2 separate regions of the Homo sapiens genome follow, and region 2 is reported to be linked to region 1. The links are microRNA targets in miRTarBase. Many come from high-throughput screens and were not tested one by one. Region 1 holds a microRNA gene; the other region holds the end of a gene's coding sequence.

Region 1 (4,000 bases):
GTCAGAGATTATGTAATTTTTGAAGCATTCTTCCTGCCCCACCTCCACCCTATTTTCATCTCCAATTTTATATGAGTGAACTTACAGTAGGCCCTGGGGGTCCCTGAGGTCCAGTTTCACCATTCTTTCCAGGAGGACCCTAAAAACAAGAACAGTTAGGGAAGTAGAAATAATACAGATTACAGAGAGAAGTCAGAAGGTTGGAGATGAACGCATCTATTAGAAGGCTAGAAATAAATTGAGGAAAGCTACGTACCTGAGGGCCAGGTCCTCCAGGGCCACCTCGTTCTCCATTCTTACCAGGAGCACCCTAAAGAAGAAGTGGTCGGTATTTACTAATCCTCAAAGGGCAATAACTAATCATATTATTGTCTCATATATATATGTCTCATATATATATGTCTCATATATATATGTCTCATATATATATGTCTCATATATATATGTCTCATATATATATATACACACACACACATACATATTTTTGAGACTGAGTCTTGCTCTGTCGCCCAGGCTGGAGTGCAGTGGCGCAATCTTGGCTCACTGTAGCCTCTGCCCCCCGGGTTCTAGTGATTCTCTTGCCTCAGCCTCCTGGGTAGCTAGGATTACAGGCACATGCCACCATGCCTGGCTAATTTTTGTATTTTTAGTGGAGACAGGGTTTCACCATGTTGGCAAGGCTGGCCTAGAACTCCTGACCTCAGGTGATCTGCCTGCCTTGGCCTCCCAGAGTGCTGGGATTACAGGCGTGAGCCAGCGCACCCAGCCTGTTTCATATTTTTTATCTGCCTGCTCCATACACACACATACAACCATAACCAATTATATATTTAGCTCCCTTCCTACATGCAATTTGATTTTCATATACTCCTCCATGCTTTGAAGAGGAGACTGAGTTTTGACCATTTCTTTACTCCATATGGAAAATAAAAGCCTTCCAGTCAAATATTTATTGAAGAAATTAATGAAGGAACTCACATCATTTCCTTTAGGACCGGGGAAGCCCATGACACCAGGCTGACCTCGGGGACCAGATGGCCCAGGAGGACCTGGTCGACCACTTTCTCCTTGACTTCCCTAATAAGAAAAAATTACATTAATAAAGGTTTGATAAAGAGAAGATTAAAGCATGCTATATATATAGTATGTGTGTGTGTGTGTGTGTGTGTATATATATAGATATACATATACATATATATATATACACACACACACACACACACACTCAAGGATAGGCCAACATATACATTCCATTTTAACTGGCCTTTTAAAATGAGATTTTAAAAATGTACATACGGGAGGCCCTGGTTTCCCATCACTTCCTGGTCCTCCTGGACTTCCGGGCATGCCCTGAAGTAAAGAAGTCAGTTGTTAGGTGATTTAAAATGAAATAATAAAAAATTACTACATACACTATTTGTATGATTTTGATATTTTCACTTACATGTGAAGCCTCAGATTTGCACATCTTTTTTCCTGTCTATAAAGTATCTAAGGCAAGTGTTCTATCTTCTCTTCTCCTTGAACTATCTCGGCTTAAGTTTACTTAAAAGAATTTTGTTTTGTTTGGTGCCTTACAAAATATGTAATCTGATTGATTTAAGTTGCTTTTGATCTGTCTTCATTTGTCTTGCCTTTCTTCTGTCTAAATTAAAGTGTCATTCAAACAAATGTTTCTCTGTACCCTCATTCCTGGACCTCCAGGGACGCCATCTCTGCCAGGTTCTCCAGCAGCTCCTCTGGGCCCTGCAGGGCCTGGAGCACCACGCTCTCCAGCAGGACCCTAAGTAGTGAAAGAAATTTTAAAAAAATTAAAATAGCCTTCACTAACCTAGATAGCAACAATATTTTGGTTACAAAGAGAGGACGTCATTTGAACTTTTAAAAAGGGTTCGTGTGTTGCTGAAACATTTATACATAAAATCAGTTATCTTAGCTTGGATTGCCATATTGAAAAAATTTTAAAGCAACTTTGTGAACATCACATGCTTAATAAAACAGTATTCACTGTGCTTAAAAATATAATTATGTGCAGCTAAAATCAAATATCTTAATGCTATGAAATCATATTTGATGTAACCTTAGAGTTTTCAAAGACTTTTCAGGCATTTTAGTTTACTGTACTCTTGCAACGATGCTCAGATAAATGCTTTCCAATTAACAGATAAGTAAAGGATTCTCATAGAGGGTAAGTAAGTGGCTTTAGTTACAAAGCCAGGAAAGTTGTTGAACAGAGGATGCATTATATTAGGAATTTTTCTTAACTCTAATATATATTCTTCAGATATTTAGGTTTTCATGAATGAGAAATTGTATACAAGAACTGCCCATTTGTGGTGCTAGCATTTAGGAACATAGAAACTAAAGTTATCTACCTTTTCTCCTGGGATGCCATTTGGTCCAGCAGGTCCTCGGAACCCAGGGGCACCCTGAAAATAATGAAAGACAAGTATTTCAGTCCAAAGGATTTCAATTCTTTTTCATAATTCTTGAGTGGCAAATATTTTTATGTCATAGAATGCTTTAAACAATATTTTCACTGAACACTCAACTTAAGAAAAATTGGCTGTCTCACCCTGAAGGTAGTTTTATTTAGATGACAGTGATGCTGCTTTTCTTTTAGATGCCCCATGGAAAACGTACCCTTTCTCCTGCAGCTCCTGGAAGCCCATTTGCACCAGGTTCTCCAGGTGATCCATCCTTGCCATCTTCGCCTTTAGCTCCTGGAACACCTGGAATACCAGCCTCACCCTGAAAAAAAAAAAAGATGGTAAAATAAAGAAATTATGACTGAATTTAGTTCAAAGTTTTTACCTGTTTACTTTCTAATTATGTTGCATTTTTTCAAGAAATAACCAGATCTGTTGCAGTAAAACTTACGCGTTCACCACGTGGTCCGGGCTCTCCTTTGGCACCATTCTTACCAGGCTCACCCTAAAGTATAACAAAGTCTTGGTTGAAACACAGGGAGGATTCGACTAACAAATCATCACCAGTAACACATAATTCAGTTATAAGTTATAAGACAAGAGTGAAGTCAATATAAATTCAACTGAACAGGAGCAAAATTTTGCTATTAATTTTTTGTTGATGGAATTAAACTATACCTTTCAGTCAACAGAGAAAAAACAAGGCAACTTACTGCACCACCTCGCAGTCCAGGAGCACCATTAGCACCGGCTGGTCCTGGAGGACCCCGGGCTCCCATCAGTCCAGGAGCTCCAGGAATGCCAGCGGGACCCTAAGAACAAACCAAAGACACTATATTAGCCGAACTTGAATGTTCTTTTATGAATATCTCACTTAAATATCACAAATCTATTGTCATGCAAAATGCAAAAGAAGCCAGTAATGTGTGGATGAGATAAGGCTGAGGAGTGGGGACAGCTTACCATTTCGCCTTTACCACCAGGACTACCATTAATCCCAGGAGGGCCCTAAGTATACAAAAAACAGATAATGTATTAATAGTAATGCAAATAGTTCGTATATATTTGAAGTTGTTTGTGTGAAAATAAATGTATCGATGAGTGTTATGCTTTGTAGAGATTAAGTGAATCCTCCAACTATAACACAACATATGAAATGTGGTCAAAAGAATCATCATTATCTAAATAAATTAGAGATAATATGTACTTCGTATAAATTATTAAATGATACATAAATAGAAGAGATTTTGAATTTGGTTCTTCTCTGAATTTTTATGATTGGTGATTAGCTTGGGGCACATTCTTGAAAGCATCAGAAAACTAGTCTATCCTCTATTCTTTTATATAAACATAAAAAATCATGAATTCTGGAATAGTGCAACAGTCAAAAACTATCATTTTTACTACTAATCAAATCAGTATGTGTCACAGGAGGATCATTTTAGAGCACTAAGCAACAATTTTTTCAAAGTAATTTTCACTGATAGCCATATTGAAGCACATGCTTTCATGGAGTAAGCATGAAACTATGCTTTCATGGAGTAAGCATGAAACTATGCTTACTCCCTCTC
Region 2 (4,076 bases), not on the chromosome of region 1:
CAAACTGGGCTCTGAAAAAGGGCAGGTCTACACCACGCAGCTCTATGGTTTAGCTGTGTCCCATTCACCAAACCAAGGAATGAGGAGCGTTTGAACTCTCCATGGTGCTGAAAATTGACACACTAATAATCTCCCCTGCAAACAAAACACAGTTTTCCTAATAAGGTATCTATGAAGACTGTTGTGAATTCCCAATAGACATTTCCCCAAGCCTTCATAAAATCCTAACAAAACAATGATTTTAAGGCAAAGACAGACCTTGGTCAAACTCTCTTCCCTGTCCCCTAAGATGAAAAGAATGAGGCAGAGATGTAAATTACTTCTACAGAATAAAGCTATCACATGACAAAACCATCACATGATAAAACCAAACAGGTAAGGTGCTCATGTGTGCATTAATGACAGCTATTACTTAGTGAACACCAGAAATGATCTGTTGTCAGCAATACACTGAGGAAATCCGATATTCATATGGTCTGAATAATCAGATAACTGAATCTATTAGTAGGAATAAGGGAAAGAAAAAAAGTGACCAGAACAGCCATAACGAAATCCTAAAATTCTAGTTCTTAGTTCCCTTGTTCTACTACCCTAACAGTTGTTTTCAAACTATATTCTAAGGAATTCTAAAGGTTCCTTGGGGGCTCCTCAGGAATCTTGGGGAAAGGGGGTCATAAGAACATGGAACTTCAGGACCCCTCATTCCCACTTCAATCAAAGTAACCCCACTTATGCTTGTTTTACATATTGAGAATCCATGTAATACTCCATCAAACAATACACTCTAAACAGTGTTTGATGACTCTGGTACAAATATTCTCAGAAATAGTTCAACTTTTTACCAGAAACTTCTTTCAAATAATGCCTAAAAGCCAGGGAAAACAAAATGTCCTGGGATTAAAGACTTGATTGAATTAATATAAGGTCCACAAAGGCAGGGATTTTGTCTGCTGTGTTCACTGGTATACCACAAAGAGACCAGAATTGTGGAACTTAGGGTTTCTTTGAAGACGAGGCCTGTAACAGAAATGGGGCAGTAGGGCGGGGGAGCTAGATTATAAACCACCTACAAATAAAAAAAGATTTTTTAACCCTGAAGATTTTCATGAACCACAGGACACTTGAAGTCCTCCATCCTCAGTGTTCCCCAAGCACTGGTTCTCCAACTCAGGAAAAATTGTTTGCCCTAAGTGTCTAAGCTTCCTCACTAGTAAAATGGAGATTTCATAAATTTTATAAGGATTGCCAGGCGTGGTGGCTCATACCTGTAATCCCAGCACTTTGGGAGGCCAAGGTGGGTGGATCACGAGGTCAGGAGATTGAGACTATCCCGGCTAACACAGTGAAACCCTGTCTCCACTAAAATACAAAAAATTAGCCAGGTGTGGTGGCACGTGGCTATAGTCCCAGCTACTCAGGAGGCTGAGACAGGAGAATCGCTTGAACCCAGGAGGCAGAGGTTGCAGTCAGCGGAGATCACGCCACTGCACTCCAGCCTGGGCAACAGAGTGAGACTCCATCTCAAAAAAAAAAAAAAAAATTTATAAGGATTAAGTATAAAGCACTTAGCTCAGCCTATAGCACAGGAATTTTTTTTTTTTTTTTGATGGGTCTTACTATCATTCAGTCTGGAATGCAGTGGTAAGATCATAGCTCACAGCAAGCTCAAACTCCAGGGCTTAGGCAATACCCCTGCCTCAGTCTCCCAAGCAGCTGGGACTACAGACACACGCCACCACACCTGCCTAATTTTTTTATTTTTATTTTTTTTTAGAGACAGGGTCTTGTTGTGTTAAACATGCTGGTCTTGAACTCTCTGGCCTCAAACTATCCTCCTGACCCAGCCTCCCAAAGTGTCCAGATTATAGATATGAGCCACCACACCTGGCCAGAAGGTAGTACCTGTTTTGTTTTGTTTTGTTTTGTTTTGTTTTTTAAAGAGCACTTCCCTTCCCCTGGAAGTTCCCATAATCCACAAATCTTAATAAATTAGAAACAAATATAGTGGTCCTAACAAGCAAATGAAGTGGTTTTAACTAAAGTATTTTTGAACTGAATCACTCATCTAGTTAGTTCAGCCATAAAGGAAAAAAAGTCTCTAAATCTGTTCTTGTGGCTCTTTGTTTAGATTCCCTTGAGGAAACAGAAGTATGAGAGCCCAGGGCATGTGAGACTCTCTCAGATCTATCAGGGACTAAAGGTTAGCGGCCCCAGACATAAGCCCATCTTGGTGTCATGCACAAAAGCTCTAGGCTCTTTGACTTGAAGGGAATCTCACAGATGAAGTCTAATACATTCCTTAGCTGAGGAAAATTAAAGGCCAGGGATATTAAGTGATTTGCCCAAGATCACAGAATTAGCCTAAGACAGCCATAGGTCCAGTCTCCTAACTACTTTCTACCAAGCGGCAGCTGAGTGAAAGACCCCTGCCCCAATCAGGCTGAATAGTATAAATCCAAATTCAGAAATTCAGAATCAACGAGGTTTTAGTCATATAACCCAAATTAATTTGTCTATCGATATAACCCAGCAATACTAGACATTAAAATCAGATGTTCATGAGACCCAAAGCCTTTTTTAAAAACTCCAATGAATTAATTCTACAGACCCAACTTCTATCTTTTTTTAATCCCTTTTTTCACTTTCTGTATTATCCAAGGCCTGTGGGACATCTCACCAACAGAGGTTATTCTCTCATTAGAATACAAGATCTCAGATGTATAACGCCCACCAGTCTCCTGGCTTGAGTTTGGCTAATTATTTCTGTGGGATTTTCATTTGTTTGGCTGTTAAGCTAGGAATGTTCTGCTTGTCTGCTGGCATTTTTTTTTTTTTTTTTTTTTTGCCAGCTCTTTATAGAAGGGTTGGCCTTTATTGACTCTGGTAAAATGACCCTCAGTTGAAGGCGGGGGGGTGGGGGTCAGAGTCTGAAAAACACAAGACTATACTGACTCTTCACTCTAGCCTTCTTACTCACTCTACTATTTTCTACAAACTCCCTCAGTAACTGACCAAAGATCAGCCTTATGTTCATGCTATTTCAGAAAGAAATGAAAAACATTCAGAGAAGTGGAGATAAGAATAATCTTGCTGATGTGGAAAGGTTCTATCTTGCTTTTGATTACAGCCAAGCTCAAGTTTCTTGAACCACTTATGCCACCTGGTGGCCAGCCCAGATAACACTAATAAAACCTAAAATTCATGTGTTAATATCTCAATCTGTATTGTATTATAACAAATCATACAGGAAGTTGTGGCAACATGGGTTGAAAGAGTTGATTATACCAGCCTCGTCTCTCAATACTTTTTGTGACGTAACCAATTTTTAGTTTTTGGGAAAAATATATTATCAAAGAAAACAATACAAATGTTTTGCACTTCCAAAAAAAATTTCCCTTTTCACCAACCACTCACCAAAAATATCCCAAACCCAACGACTCCAGTCGTACAATACATGTGCAAAAAGGGGCTTTAATTCATAAGCAAAATCAATTTTATTAGTAAGGCTCTTTCCACATGTCCAAAGCAAACAATTAATGAATTCCAGGGAAAACCACCTATATACAATGAAATTAGAAGTATCTCAGGATGACAAAAAATATACAAATATGTACACCCATAATCACCGCCGCCTCCGAAAACCTGAAAGGAAGGGAAACCAAGAATGAGGCAAAGGACAGTTGGAAAAGCTAAAGGGACAGGAAAACAGGACATCTAGAGGGAAGGGCTCACAGGGGTGGGGTCTCCTAGGCAGTACCCTGAATATCTTCCCAGGACAAAAGACGAGAAGTAGGAATAAAATTGAAATGGGATAATGGTTCCTTCAAGTGACACTTTACCAGTTCTATTTAGGGAAGCCTGAACAGGAGCTGTGGGACCTTAGAGGCAGAATCCAGAGATTCATTTTGTGAATGATGCTGATTTCCAGCTCAGGAAAGCAAAAAATAAAAGCCCACCTAAGGAGATTATTGCCCAGTATGGAAGAGATACTACAGGGCTTGGTGAGACCCAGAATGGCAAATCCAAAGAGACTCAATTTGTACTCCCCACCTTGCACCTGATCACCTAAGTCCCAG

The links. Region 1 holds the annotated microRNA hsa-miR-3606-3p (AAAAUUUCUUUCACUACUUAG, at 1,784-1,804, opposite strand). A microRNA usually pairs through its seed, bases 2 to 8, with sites in the 3' UTR of a target mRNA and lowers its output. Matches are read on the target gene's strand: a 7mer-m8 pairs with bases 2 to 8, a 7mer-A1 pairs with bases 2 to 7 and ends in A, and an 8mer does both.
Region 2: miRTarBase lists NGDN as a target of hsa-miR-3606-3p. The part of its 3' UTR that is shown has no 7-base or 8-base seed match.

Annotation. Positions count from the first base shown.
Region 1 is chr2:188,993,475-188,997,474 of GRCh38, reverse strand. MIR3606 (microRNA 3606) reads right to left here and starts at 1,845; the gene lies at 1,783-1,845. COL3A1 (collagen type III alpha 1 chain) reads right to left here. Exons shown (of 51, transcript NM_000090.4): 17 at 3,393-3,437; 18 at 3,143-3,241; 19 at 2,881-2,934; 20 at 2,644-2,751; 21 at 2,376-2,429; 22 at 1,685-1,783; 23 at 1,297-1,350; 24 at 979-1,077; 25 at 257-310; 26 at 86-139.
Region 2 is chr14:23,477,573-23,481,648 of GRCh38, reverse strand. It overlaps NGDN (neuroguidin), which reads right to left. Exons shown (of 11, transcript NM_001042635.2): 11 at 3,476-3,642. The coding sequence ends at 3,623. Among named protein-coding and RNA genes, the nearest start is that of NGDN, 9.9 kb to the right of the region's middle.